2 linked regions of the Homo sapiens genome follow. The main gene of each other region encodes a partner of the protein of the gene in region 2 in a complex. Each region holds a gene or a part of one and is shown on either strand. Other genes may lie near its edges. A codon is read from its position in the direction of its gene.

The links. Proteins that work in one complex are often made in the same cells at the same time.
Region 1: the proteins of ANPEP (region 2) and AGT are in contact, whole or in part, in a crystal structure (PDB 4FYS), measured with the Homo sapiens proteins. Residues at the interface, in NP_001141.2 of Homo sapiens: Gln211 (codon at 608), Gln213 (codon at 602), Ala351, Gly352, Ala353, Met354, Glu355, Arg381, Val385, His388, Glu389, His392, Glu411, Glu418, Asn438, Arg442, Phe472, Tyr477, Ile864, Phe896, Ser897, Asn900, Gln903, Ala904, Arg907; in NP_001369746.2 of Homo sapiens: Val27, Tyr28, Ile29, His30, Pro31, Phe32.

What each region holds. Positions count from the first base shown.
Region 1 is NC_000001.11:230,711,123-230,718,294, forward strand, and holds the start of AGT (angiotensinogen precursor), read right to left. Parts: upstream 3,001-7,172; 5' UTR 2,964-3,000; intron 1-2,963. UniProt on the Homo sapiens protein: Essential component of the renin-angiotensin system (RAS), a potent regulator of blood pressure, body fluid and electrolyte homeostasis.
Region 2 is NC_000015.10:89,804,840-89,811,857, forward strand, and holds part of ANPEP (aminopeptidase N precursor), read right to left. Parts: intron 1,971-7,018; exon of another isoform or gene 1,968-1,970; 5' UTR 1,745-1,967; coding exon 1,131-1,744; intron 625-1,130; coding exon 482-624; intron 379-481; coding exon 239-378; intron 1-238. UniProt on the Homo sapiens protein: Broad specificity aminopeptidase which plays a role in the final digestion of peptides generated from hydrolysis of proteins by gastric and pancreatic proteases.

The sequences.
Region 1 (7,172 bases), on a different chromosome or scaffold from region 2:
CTCAGAATGTGACCATTATTTGGAGACAGGATCTTTAAAGAGATGATTAAGTTAAAATGAGGCCATGAGGGTGAGCCCTGATCTAATATGACCTGTGTCCTTATGAGAAGAGGAGATGAGGACATGGACACACACAGAGGGAAGACCATGTGGGGACACAGAGGGAAGACCATGTGGGGACACAGAGAGAAGACGGCCATCTACAAGCCAAGGATAGAGGACCCAGAGGAAACCAACTCTGCTGATGGCTGGCTCCCAGGCTTCTAGCTTCCAGAACTGTGAGATAACACATTTCTGTTGTTAAACCCTCCCAGTCTGTGGTACTTATGGCAGCCCAAGCAGATTAAGACATGCTCCTGCCTGCAGCTGTAAGTTCTCTTCCTAGAGAAACAAGTGTGTGCCAATCAGTAGGTCTTTGTGGAGGCCTCCTAGACCCCTGAGATGCTCATTCGAGGGCCCTAGGGTGAGGGCTGGGGATGGTTTTGTCATCTCCCTGTGGTCCCAACATGCAGCCGGGATTGAGCACCACAGGCTCAGCCCAAAGTCCAAGTATTTCCCACGTGTCTCAACCCCAAAACCAGCTCTCAACCATCCCTGCATAGCGCTATCCCCTGCAGAGCCCCAAAGGCATGCATACCTAGCATGGCTTGCCCAATGATAGTTGGATTCCTTAGTCTGTGCTGGGACCACGTATAAAAAAAAAAAAAAAAAAATAGAAAATTCTCAGGTGACTCTGATATGTAAGCAGGGTTTAGAACCCCTGCCCTAGACACGGGTCCAGCACCACGTTCTCTCAAAGGCCTTGCAGCTGGGCTTCAGCCTCAGCTGCTACAAATGAAAGCTACCCTGAGACCCCCAGAAGAGGTTCTTGGGCTGGCCCTGCTAATTCATTTCATCTGACTCTTCTTGATTGAAGGGATGAACGTTTATTCTATTGATTCATTCAATTCTAACATTTTGTACCACATCTCACTCATTTCTTGTGGAGGGGGGTGTACTGCAATATCGTCACTTCTTGGCCTTTTCTGTCCCCCCAGGGCTAGGCCAGGCTTCCTTGGAGCTGTAGCGTGTCATCACTGACTCAAGGCCACCTTGATGCCTAGATTTTTCTGCTTCATCTAAGCATACCCAGTCATTCTTCTTACATTGGCAGCTGGCTTCCCTCACCCAGACCCGTAACCAGCACCTGCCCTCAACACGGTGCAGCTGCTGAAGTACCTGGTGTGTTTTGTTCTGCTTCAGTCATTCAAATGCCAAATTCTGACCTCAGCTACCATCTCACCCCACTCCCCATGCATTTGACTCCATCCGCTGTTCTCAGGAAGAGCCACATGACATGGAAAAATGGAACAGAAAACTCTCTCTGCTGCTTGCAGGCCTTTCTGTGCAGAGAAGCCTAAGCCACCAGTTCACACCTAATCTAGACAGTCACATCAAATCAGGTCAACAGGGGAAACCTGTGGGAACCGACTGCTGGGAAGTCCTGCCTGACAAGCGCCAACTGTTCGGGGTTTGGATGGCGCTGGTCGATGCAGCCCGCTCACTGTGCTGCTCCTGCTCAGGCAGCGTCTCCAGAGACGCAATTCCATGGGCCATTTTTGAGGCAGAGACTGTCGTTTGTTCTCAGTTGTGATCTGCGGCTGCTCCCTAGGCTGGTTCCAGGTCTGCACGCAGCCGCGTCCTGGGAGTAATGGTGCTCTGGGGTGGCGGGCCTGACACCCTCGCCCTGAGTGCCCCTCCGCCTTCTCCTCTCCTGCCCCTGCCTCTTGGCCAGCACCTGCCCCTTCTATGTCTCCCTACTTCTCCCGGGCTGAATGCTAAAGGTGAAGATGACGGCTCATGCTCCTGTGGTGCCTGCCATTTGCAGGGCACTGTTCTCATATCAACCCCTCTGACCTCACCATAGTCCTCACCTTCCCTGAGGTTTCCCTGATGCAGTATTTCACCCTGCAGCTTTCCCCACCACACCGGGCACTCTCAACTCTCTCATCCAGCTCCCCTTTTCCCTCCTTATAACCCTCTGTACCATGTAGTTATGCACTTATTCTGTCCAGCGTCTTTGTCTGTTTGCTCTGATGTGAATGTGAGCCCCGGAACAGGGTTCCCGCTGTTGTGTTTACTAATACAGCCCACATTCCTAGGATAGTCCCTGGGACCTACTGCATCCTGGAGAAGTAGTTAATGAATTGGTTCATGCTGTTTTGCAGAGGAACAGAGAGGTCCAGTGACTTGTTCAACGTCACACAGCTGGGAAGAGACAGAACTAGGACTCAGAACCAGGCCCCCTGACTCTGTCATCCACGAGCTGAAGCACCAATCTACGCTGCCCTCGAATAAAATTGGAATCTGCCTTTTAGCTTATCCCAAAGCTTAGAAAGCACTTTCATGTTATATTAGTTCTCTTCAGCTATACCAGAGCCCCTGAGACAGGGAGCCCAGGCATCGTTATTAGTTCCATTTTATAGGTGAGCAAATCGAGGTTCAGGGAGATGGTGACCAGCCTGATGACACACAGTCAGGCAGTCTGTCTCGAGGGAGGGGTAGGGTGACCACTCTGGGGATCCCAGCTGGAGACTGACCGAGCCCGGCCCTTCCCTCCAGCCCCAATTCCTGCACAAGCCCTGCTATTCCTCCTGATGGCAAGAGGACCCGGTGGACTCTTGGCCATGATGACTCTGTTCCTGTACCAGTCTGCTCCGTTCCTGAGGACCCTAACTTTTCTCAGCGGAAGCAGGAAGACCTGACCATCTTGTCCTATTGCTGAGGAGGAGCAGCTCCTCCTGTAAGACCCCAGGTGGGCACCGAGTGGGGGAAAGCCCGCGTCCGGATGACTGGTCTTATGAGAGGGGAGAGGTTTTTCAGTCATCACCGTGCCTCCTCCCGGCCTTTTCCTCCTAGCCCACAGCTCAGTTACATCTGAGAGAGACAAGACCGAGAAGGAGCTGAGGGGGCCCCCGGCTTACCTTCTGCTGTAGTACCCAGAACAACGGCAGCTTCTTCCCCCGGCCGGGTCACGATGCCCTATTTATAGCTGAGGGGTGGGGATGGAGCTGTTCCCAGGCTGCCTGTGCACAGGCTGGAGAGGAGGGTTACATCACTTGGCCAGACCACAGGCTGGCCAGAAGGACAGATGCCAGAAGCGACACTCACGCTGGGACCTCTTCCAGGAAGTCTTAGTGATCGATGCAGAGTTTCACTGCTGAACAGAGTGAGCCGGTGCAGGGTCGAGTTACACATTTACCGAAGTTTGCAGGAGTCGGGGCCAAGGTTCCCAGAAACGGGAGCATCTCCCTAGGTGTGTGACAGCCTGAGGCCAACCACCCAGGCCTTCTGACCCAGCCCCGGGAGATGTACCCCCAAGAGGCCACAGGGACATGCAGGCCGGAGGTGCAGAGGGCAGAGGGCAGGGGAGAGTCTTGCTTAGGCAACACGGGGGCCACTTCTGACCCTGCTGCCCGCTCATGGGATGTGTGACCTTCAGCTGCTCCAAAGAGCCTACCCTGTGCAAAGGCCTCTAATAGACACTGGGGAAAACACACAAGCAAGTGAAAAGTGCCTTCTGGAAGTTTCCAGTGTAGCTGGGGAGACTGTTAAACACCAACAATAGCACAGCCAGATTGAAAGACACAAACAAAATGCCTTCAGGATGCAGGCATTGAAAGATGTGCTGTTCTGTGTTTATGCTGTACAAATTGCAAATGGTAAGTTTCACATGACCAGTAAAAGGGTTATAATTCTTATTTTCCTATAGGTAAGACTTGCTTTTGTAGTCATTATAACAGGGCATGACAGAGACCTTGGTGAGAGTCGCCAGAAGCCAGTGATCACAAGTGACGCAGTGGGTGAGGCAGGTTGGGAGTGGTGATGTGTCCAGCCTTAAATACATGGTATTAGGGCACTGAAGGGACAGGAAGGAAGATCCTGCTTCAACACAAGCAGGTTCAAGGAGCCACGGCATATCCACGATGGCAGACATGAAATTACCCAGGAATGGAACATTTAACAACAAAGAGCAGGAAGAGATGGTGCCTGGATATGAGGCAGAAGCTGTACATTCACTGACTGAACAATCAACAAACACACAAATACCTCTTTTTTACCCATTACTCTAAATCTTCATTTAAAAAAATCATATCTCACATGGGCCTGTAAATTCTGAAATACATTTTTTTAATTACTTTGTTCCTATAGATAGGGACTCCTCAAAAATCACTTGTCTGGGGCCCCACAGCGACTTAGAGGTGGCTTTGTCTGAACAGAACATTCGGGCCAGGTACAGTGCCTCGCATCTGTAATTCAAACACTTTTTGAGGCCAGGAGATGGAGGTTACAGTGAGCTATGATTGCACCACTGCACTCGAGCCTGGGCTACAGAGTAAGACTCTGTCTCTAAATAAATAGACAATTTTAATTTAATTTTTTTAAAATAAGAGACCATTCAAAGTGCTCCTGCCTGCGAATGGGTTAGTTGGAACAGTAGAGACTGGGGTCCTAGGCCTGGCTGTGCCACTAACTAGTTGTTTGAGGATCAGCAAGTGGTTTAACTGCAGTAACAAGTCCACCTGGACACAAGGGGGAGGTAAGGATCTAGCACTGATTAAGCAACAACCTTGTGCCCAGTGTTTAAATATTTCGGCTCTTTAAAGCCTCACAATTTGTTTCATTCACTCACTATTCCTGGTGCTCAGCATATGTCAGGGAACAAAACAAAGATCCTGGTCTTTGGGAGAGTTTCCACTGTGCCTGGGCCTCCTGCCTCGGGCCCTTGGAATGATCACTCCATTCAACAGCAAAGATAATAAACAACTGATCAGGTAACATGCTGGAAAGTGGTGTAAAAGAAAATAAAATTTCAGGACCCTCTAAATTTGGCCTCTAAGCAAGCCAAACTTCTCTTAATAATGACACGTTACTGGGGAGAACATAAGAAAATAATTTTGGTTAGATTGGACCCAATAAAGAATATCTGCTTAAACTTGTTGCAAGATTGGTTAAAAGCCCTTAATCCATGCCCAAGGCTGACTATCAGCTGGGGGATCTTCTACGTAAGGCTTTAAAGCTCATTAAAATCAATCAGAAAATTGCTAGAGAATTTTATTGAGAATGTAAATTATTCCCATAAGGAGCAGCCATTCAAACTGACTGCAGACATTTGACCCAGCTCAGATTCAGGCCAGTTTTCTTCCCAGTAGGCACCTTCTGTGTTCATTCCATCAGTGGAAGTTTCTTATGTGTACATTCCATCAGTGGAAGTTAGGGACAGAGCTTATCTGTGGCTAAATGAAGACTGTTGAATGAAAAGCAGAGGTTCTACATAGAAACCAAATAAGCCATCTGATATGGTTTGGCTGTGTCCCCACCCAAATCTCCAATTGTAGCTCCCATAATTCCCATGTGTCATGGGAGGGACCCAGTGGGAGGTAATTGAATCATGAGGGTGGATCTTTCTGATGCTGTTCTTGTGATAGTGCATAAGTCTCATGAGATCTGATGGTTTTATAAAGGGGAGTTCCCCTGAACATGCTTTCTCTCTTTTGCCAGCCACCATGTAAGATGTGCTTTTGCTCCTCCTTCACCTTCCACCATGATTGTGAGGCCTCCCCAGCCACGTGGAACACATAAGTCCATTAAACCTCTTTTTCTTTATAAATTACCCAGTCTCTGGTATGTCTTTATTAGCAGCGTGAGAACAGATACCATCAGTCAGAATCGGATCCAGGAAACCAGCCACATATGGAGTCAGCAGAGCATGATGTATTAGTCAGGCAGGTGCTATTGGGATATGTAGGGAAAAAAAAGAGAGATCAGACTGTTACTGTGTCTATATAGAAAGGGAAGACATAAGAGACTCCATTTTGAAAAAGAGCTGTACTTTAAACAATTGCTTTGCTGAGATGTTGTTAATTTGTAGCTTTGCCCCAGCCACTTTGACACAGCCCTAGATCCCTTAAACCTTGATTTTATACAACACATGTTTTTGTGAGCTCCAGGTTGGGTCAAAGTGGCTGGGGCAAAGCTACAAATTAACAACATCTCAGCAAAGCAATTGTTTAAAGTATAGCTCTTTTTCAAAATGGAGTCTCTTATGTCTTCCCTTTCTATATAGACACAGTAACAGTCTGATCTCTCTTTCTTTTCCCTACAGGGATGATGACGTTTGGGATCAGTTCTACTCTGTGGTTTCTGAGATGAGACTTGGTCTAAACTAGAACTCCTACTTTCCAATCTCTTGACCACCCAGCTAGTCATGGGATGAACACATAAACTCCTCTCTCCAGCAAAACTAAACCAAACCAGGAAAGCAGATTATTTATTTATGTATATGATGCAATCAAACCTGGAACCAGCTGTATGAGGTAAGGAAAGAATGAAGGGTAAATACAGGAATGGGGTTTCCATTTTTTGCCTCTGAGCCAAAACTAATTGTTTCACAGGAGCCTTGTTCTCTGCTGGGATCAGAACTGCAACCCCACATCATGCCTTGGAAGAGGCATGTGAGCCCTGAACATCATTTACTGGAAAGCAGGAAGAGGGGTGGAGCCTACTGTCCTGCATCCCATGATGGATCCTTGAAGTTCCAAGTTTTCCTTGCATGACAAGGACACTTCCCAGCATTTCTGGTCCTCATTGCTGCCCATCTATATCATGGGGGCTGGAACCGGGCATTTGGAGCTCTCGATTTGTAAAATGGGCTCATTAGGGAAAAGTCCATTTCTTTCCAATAAAGAACACTCAAATACAAACAGAATTTTCTTAAGTTGGCTCACATGGGCTTTAGACTCCTGACAAATAAAACAAAATAGTCTGAGCTCCCCCATTTCACCCAGGAGAAATGGCTGTATTTTTGTGTGTTGTTTTAGAGTTGGGGTCTTGCTCTGTCCTCCAAACTGGAGTGCAGTGGCATGATCATGTCTCAAAGAATCCTCCTGCCTCAGTCTCCAGAGTAACTAGGACTACAGGTGCATGCTACCATATCTGGCTAATTTTTTTATTTTTATTTTTTGTAGAGATAGGGTCTTGCTATGTTGCCCAGGCTGATCTTGAACTACTGGTCTCAAGTGATCCTCCTACCTCAACTTCCCAAAGTGTTGGGATTACAGGCATAAGCCACCATTCTCAGCCTGTTCTTTCTTTTTTAATAATAATTTTTATTGTATTTATATAAGGTGTAC
Region 2 (7,018 bases):
ACCGTCTGTCTGGTAACCGGTGGGTCAGGAACTCCCTTCATGAAGAGAAACCATTGTTTTCATTTTTCAGGTGCAGAAATGGAGAACCAGAGAACAAGACACTTGCCTGAAATCACTCAGAGGTGGGATTCCAACCCTGGCCTAACAATTCAGAAACTGGCACAGGGATGAAGAGAACGGGAAGACCCCTCAAGCCGGGGCCAGCCCACGTGAAGGAGAGATGGGCCCAGCCTCATACCAAGACACCATTGGATGCCTGCTTCTCCACGTAGTCGAACTCACTGACAATGAAGGCCAGCAAGTACGTGGACATCTTGGGCGTGGTGTGGAACTCAGTGACATTCCAGTTGGGGTCTTCTGGAAGTGGGGTGCTGGGACCTGGGCAGGGAGCATGTGTGTGTGAGGACGTACCCTCCTGCCCCACACCCCAGCCCAGGGTGCCTGCCCCCTGGCCCTGTGGCCGCAGGCAGGGCCCACTCACCTTTGGGAAGCATGTTGGACAGGGCTGTCAGGTCCTTGGGGTGGATAAGCGTGATGTTGAACTCGGCCTTCATGGCCGGCTCATCGAAGCATGGGAAGGACTTCCGGGCATCTGCAGCCTGCATCTGTGTAGTGGCCACCACCCTGCCCCAACAGGAAGGTTAGAGGGTGTGCCAGAGCTGGGGGTGTGGGAGGGGCTCTGAGGATGCTACCAGGCATGCAGGGAAAGGGGTACATGGAAGGCTGCCCCAGCCTAACCCCTGCTCCTGCTCCCACCCCCGCCTCGCCGGGAGCCTCCGGAGCCCTGCCAGGCCAGCTGACTCGTGGGGGTTGGGGCTCCTTCTGGATTCGGGGTGCCAGCAGGCTCTCAGGGACCTCGGGTGAGTTTCTCTCCTCTGAGCCTCGGTTTTCCTGTCTGTCCAAGGGACGCTCTGTCCCTCATCCCCAGCTCCCTGGTGAGGGGTGGGGAAGCCCTCCCAGTTCGGTGCATTTGCAGCTGCTTTGCCAGCAGCTGGAGGTGAAGCAATGGGCCAGTCTCGGGCTCCACAGGGTTCAAAGGCCTGCAAGCTAAGTCCTTCCTTGGCCCTCAGAATCCAGCCTTGCCTCAGCACCTCGGATCCACCCCACCGGGCAGCCCAGCCGGAACTCACTTTCTGACATTGCCCTCCATGTACTCGCTGCGGTAGAAGCCCGCCAGGTCATCTGCCAACTCCCCCTCGAACTCGCTGTCCATCTCATACTGGCTGTCCTTCACCAGGGAGCCCTTGAGGTGCACCACCAGGTACTCGGTGGGCTCCACCAGCTCAGTCTTGTCAATGTCGGGGGGCTGGGAGCCTCCCACACCACGCAGGACCACCCTGTGCCCCTGGCTGAGGGTGTAGTTGAGCTTCTTGCTGTGGATGATGATGACGTCAGTGGCCTCCTTGCAGGTGAAACGGACGGTGCTGGAGCCCTTAAAAACGTACAGGCCCCTGTCATTGGGGGTGAGGTACGGTCTCAGCGTCACCCGGTAGGAATCGGGTTTCAGCGTGTTGGGGAGGCGGTAACGATTCCACGCTTTACTTTGGTCCAAGGTGGTGGCCGAGGCGGGGTTGGTGGTGGCTGAGGCGGACGGGGTGGTGGAGGCCACGGGGGAGCTGTTGGCGTTCTTGTTCTTCTCCTGGGAGTACACCACTGACAGTGCGATGATTGTGCACACGGCTGCCACGCCCAGGAGGATCCCCAGGATGCCCAGGGACTTGGAAATATAGAAGCCCTTGGCCATGGTGATGGTGGGGAGGCGGCTCAGGGAGCCTCAGGCCAGGCAGAGAACGGAGCAGCCCCAGGCCGGGCTTATATCCCCAAAGGGGAGGAGCCCCACAACAGGCAGACTGGGCAAAAATTAACCAGGGCTCCAACAGGCGAAGGTCACTGGACTGGGCAGGGGCACGCTCCGCCTGGGGAGAGGAGATCCAGGAACGGTGTGTGGAGCTGGGCTCGGGGGGTGCCTGCTGGAAGCAAACAGTGTCTGGTTACAGGCTGCAGGCGGCCTGGGATCAGGCCCGAGGGCTGAAGGGCAGGCTTCCGGCTGTAGGCCCAGTGGGCAAAGCAAGCGGCCAGGTGGCATTGCATTGATCTGCTTGAGAGCTGAGAGGGTGGGAACAGCATCAGAACTGAGGTTAGAGTCAGGGAAGGACTTCCCAGGGGCAAGAGGTGGGAGGTGCACAGAGAAGGGGTTCCCGGCTCCTATTAAGAACACACTGGGGTCACCCCTTTGGTTGCATCTCTGGAAGGATGCCAGGGGCTCCTCAGTGACAAGGTCCCAGCCTCCCTTGCATTCTTCAAGAGCAGGGAGTTCCTCCAGGTTCCCCTCCCTGCCGCTTCTTGCCAAATACTTTTTCCTCCATTATCAGCTCACGGAATAAAATGAAATGAGTTGTTTTGCTTTTTTTGCTGAAGGCTTCACCTCTTTCCAGCTGTGACCTTGAGCAGGTAACTTTACCCTTCTGAACCTCTCTCCTCATAAATAAATAACAGTATTTGCCTCTCAGGTTTGTTGAACAGATTTAGTGAGAAAACATATTAAACACCAAATAGTAGAATGATTAAAAATCATTCCCGGCTGGGCGTGGTGGCTCACGCCTGTAATCCTAGCACTTTGGAAGGCCGAGGTGGGTGGATCACGAGGTTAGGAGTTCAAGACCAGCCTGGCCAACATGGCGAAACCCCGTCTCTACTAAAAATACAAAAAAAATTAGTTGGGCGTGGTGGCGGGCGTCTGTAATCCCAGCTACTTGGGAGGCTGAGGCAGAGAATTGCTTGAATCCGGGAGGCAGAGATTGCAGTGAGCTGAGATCGCACCACTGCACTCCAGCCTGGGTGACAGAGTGAGACTCAAAAGAAAAAAGAAAAAAATCGTTCCCTTCTTTCTTACCCAAAGCTCAACAATTGCCTCTTTCTATCCTTGGTAGAAATGAAGATATTACTTACCATACAAAATAAAATACACACCTTACAGGAAAATTATGTTCATTGTCACTTTCCCCATCCACCAGCCCAGTTTCTCAGACCTCGACACCGCCTGACCTCACTCCACATCCAATTCACCCACATTCCCCCATCGCAAGATGCACTTGGTCAAAACCATTCTCATCATTTATGTGGACACAGCAGCGCCCCTATGGACTCCCTGCCTCCATTCGGGCCTGCTTGAACCTGCTCAACACAAATTGGATCATTTTATGCCACTGCTAAAAAAAACCTTCCTTTTGCTTGTAGAGTCCAGACCAGACCTTCTAAAGGCACCCACAAGCCCGGGTACAGTCAGCCTGCCCATTTCCTGGCCTCTTCCCCCCTGTTGCAGTACCCCAGCCACTCTGGCCTTCATCAAGCCCCAGGGCCTTGGCACAACCTGTTCCCTCTGCCTGGATCTTCTCTTCCCTATTGCCTTGGTTAATTCCTTTCCATCCTACAAGTCTTCCGCAGCGAAGCCGCCCTGACCTCCCTGACCAAGTCAAGCTCCTATGAGCTCCATTAGCTCCACAGACCTGTTCTGCAAAGCCCCAGAACTCAGCGTGGTTTTCCCTTTGATCTGTGTGGTGATAACTTGAGTCCTGGACTGCAGGCCCCATGACAGCAGGGCCTCACCAGCACTTAGCACAGTGCCTGGCACACAGTAGGTCCTCATTACTGAGATGTTGAGTGGATGCGCACATGCACGAAGGATTGAGTAAATGAATGAATGAGTCAGTCCAGGAGAAACTCCTTACCAAAGTCTTTCTGGCCTCTGTCTCCCAGCTTGTCCCCACCCCACACCTGCCCCCAGAAGAAGTGCCTGCCTCTTCTGAGCCCTTCTCCAAGCATGGCAGGCAGGCCGGACTCGTGCCAGGCCCCAGCATGTCAGGGCCCCACATGCCTTCCTGCTCCCTCAGCTCTGCTCCCTGAGGGCCTCACTCGTCTGCCACCCCTGCCACCCCTGCCACCCCTGAGCTTGCAGGAAGGCTTCTTAAATAAATGCAATGTGTGAACTGAAGGGACACGTGGATTAGTTCAATCAGGCATAAGCAAAACACAAATACCTGCCGCCTCTCGTCTGGTGTATGGAGGCCGAGTCTGAGCCCAGGGTCTTTAGGGGAGTCCTGGGTGCCCACCTTTGAGACTGAGGGTGTTCTGAGCCTTTGGCATTTCCCCAAGGGGCCTTGGTCTGGGACCAGGATGGACCTCCCACTGCAGTGACTAGCAGACACCCCATTAGGCTTGGGTGATGACCCCAAGGGGCAATCGTGCGAAATCAGGTGTCAGGAAGGGCTCCAGCTTGGGCGTGGTGAGAGAAGGAGCAGTGGCTCCCAGCACATGCTGCCAGGCTCCTCCCATCAGGGTGGATGGAATTCGCCAAGGGAGCCCATCTTTACAGCACCCCCCAGGCTGGCACTGGGGCACCATGCCTGCCCCTGAAAAGCCTTTTGATATGTCCCTGACGGAGCCTGCAGCCCCCTCCCACCTTTGCAGCAGAAAGACCCACAAGTCGGCCTGGACTAATCCCTTTTCTAAACAAAGAAAGAGGCCCTGCCTGGCCCACCATACTCTCTTCCTGTTTGCTTTGGATTCAGACCATAGGCCCAGCTGGCTGGAATCTTTACTCTTCTGGACAAGGCCTCTGGTCTTCCAAGTTGGTGCAGCAGGTAGCCCAAAGTTGGCTCTATAATGAGAGGTCCCTGCTCTAGGCACCAGGCCAACCCAGGCTGGGGGCACAGAGACAGCCATGCTCTGCAGCCCCCACCTTCAGGAACACACAAAAGGGCTTCCCTCGTCCAGTCCCCTGCCACAGCCCAGGCCTGGCCACCTCCACACCCCATCGGGCAGTGGCGGCTATGCTACCCTCCCCTGTCACCCAACCCCACCAGCACACGTCAGCAGAGGGCTCTGCCTAAGAGTGTGGGTGGGACTCTCCCATTCAAACCTGGTGCCCAACCTGCAGAGTGAAACCTTAACTCTGGCTTGGGCCTTAATACCTTCTGTGAACTTGACCCTCTGGCCTGTCCTCTTTCTACTGCCCACTGTGGCTCCAGCTGCCAGCGTCTCCCCAGATCATCGGGGCTTTTTCATACCTCTGTGACTTTGCTCATTCTGTTCCCACTGCCAGGAATGCCTTTCCTCTCCCTCTTGTCAAACTCCTACTCATCCTTCAAAACCCAACTCAATGTCACTGCCTTATCATGCACACCAGCCCCCACTCCCCTCTGCGCTTCCCCAGTCTCCAGTTCCCACCTCTATCACAGCACTTAGGAAAATGCCACTGAGGCTGAGCGCGGTGGCTCATGCCTGTAATCCCAGCACTTTAGGAGGCTGAGGTGGGCAGATCACGAGGTCAGGAGTTGGAGACCAGCCTGGCCAACATGGTGAAACCTCGTCTCTAATAAAAATACAAAAAATTAGCTGGGCATGGTAGCAGGTGCCCGTAATCCCAGCTACTCAGGAGGCTGAGGCAGGAGAATCGCTTGAACTCGGGAGGCAGAGGTTGCAGTGAGCCGAGATTGTGCCACTGTACTCCAGCCTGGGGGACGGTGTAAGACTCTGTCTCAAAAAATAAATAAATAAATAAATAAATAAATAAAAATACAAAATTAGCTGGACGTGGTGGCGCACGCCTGTAGTCCCAGCTACTTGGGGGGCTGAGGCGGAAGAATCGCTCGAACCCAAGAGGTGGAGGTTGCAGTGGGCGGAGATCGTGCCACTACACTCCAGTCTGGACGACAACAGAACGAGACTCTGTTTCAAAAAAGAAAAAAAAAAAAGAAAAAGAAAAATGCTACCAGTGTGTTCAAAAGCCTGCTGCTGCACCCAAGCACCTCAAAGGAAGGCCTGGTGGCATCGTATGCCCCTCCATGCCCAGCACAAGGCAGGAGCCCAATACATGTTGGCCAAATGAATGACAACACCCACAGTCCTTGCCGTGACCTACAGGGCCTGTGTGATCCAGCCCCCAGTGATTCTCTGGCCTCATCTCAAACGCTCTCCCCTGTCACTTCTGTGCTCCACCCCAGTGGCCTCTTTCAGTTCAAATCCAACCTGCTTTTCCCCGCTTCATTCTCCCTTCCTCCCTACACACAAGCTGATCCTTGGGCCTGGAAAGCTTCCTGCCTTTGCTTCATCCACTCCCCACTTGCCCTGGAGACACAAGTCAGTGGTGCTGCCCCCAGGCAGCCCTCCAAGTGCCTCCATGAGGGTAGCACCAGGTGTGCCGTATCCTCTACACCTGGCGTGCAGTGGGAGGGCAACACGTGCTTGTGGAATGGGGCATCAGTGCAAGAATGAGAGACAGCAGTTAAGGATGGAACTTCAGAGCCTTGATCCTCGGGACAGGTTCCACCCTCTCTACCCGACATTCCTTCCTGGGCTTCTGGGCTGTGCACAAACCACCTTCGTGATCCACCTTTGTGATTATTTACTTCGTATTTTTCTTTAAATCAATTCACTTTCTTAGCCTCCTTCTGAGCGATAAAATCATGGTTGGATGTGTTAATTTATATTAACAATTCATGACTATTGGTTTAAAAATTGTTCCTGGGCCGGGCGTGTTGGCTCATGCTTGTAATCCCTGCACTTCGGGAGGCTGAGGCGGACGGATCACGAGGTCAGCAGATCGAGACCATCCTGGCTAACACGGTGAAACCTCATCTCTACTAAAAATACAAAAAATTAGCCGGGCGTGGTGGTGGGCGCCTGTAATCCCAACTACTCGGGAGGCTGAGGCAGGAGAATGGCATGAACCCGGGAGGCGGAGGTTGCAGTGGGCCGAAATCGTGCCACTGCACTCCAGCCTGGGCGACAGAGTGAGACTCCATCTCAAGTAAAAAAAAAAAAAAAAAGAAAAAAAGAAAAAATTGTTCCTCTAGGTAGCTCCTAAAAGGATCCTGTCCAGTTGCACCCGCTTTGGGAACTGCTGCTCCACCCTGTATGATGTTGGGGTTGCTGGCCCTGCGGGTTGTCTTTGGTGCAGGCTCTTTCTGCCAGTGAGCAAAATGCATGTGTTCCTTTCGCTGTGAATTTCTTGACGGGG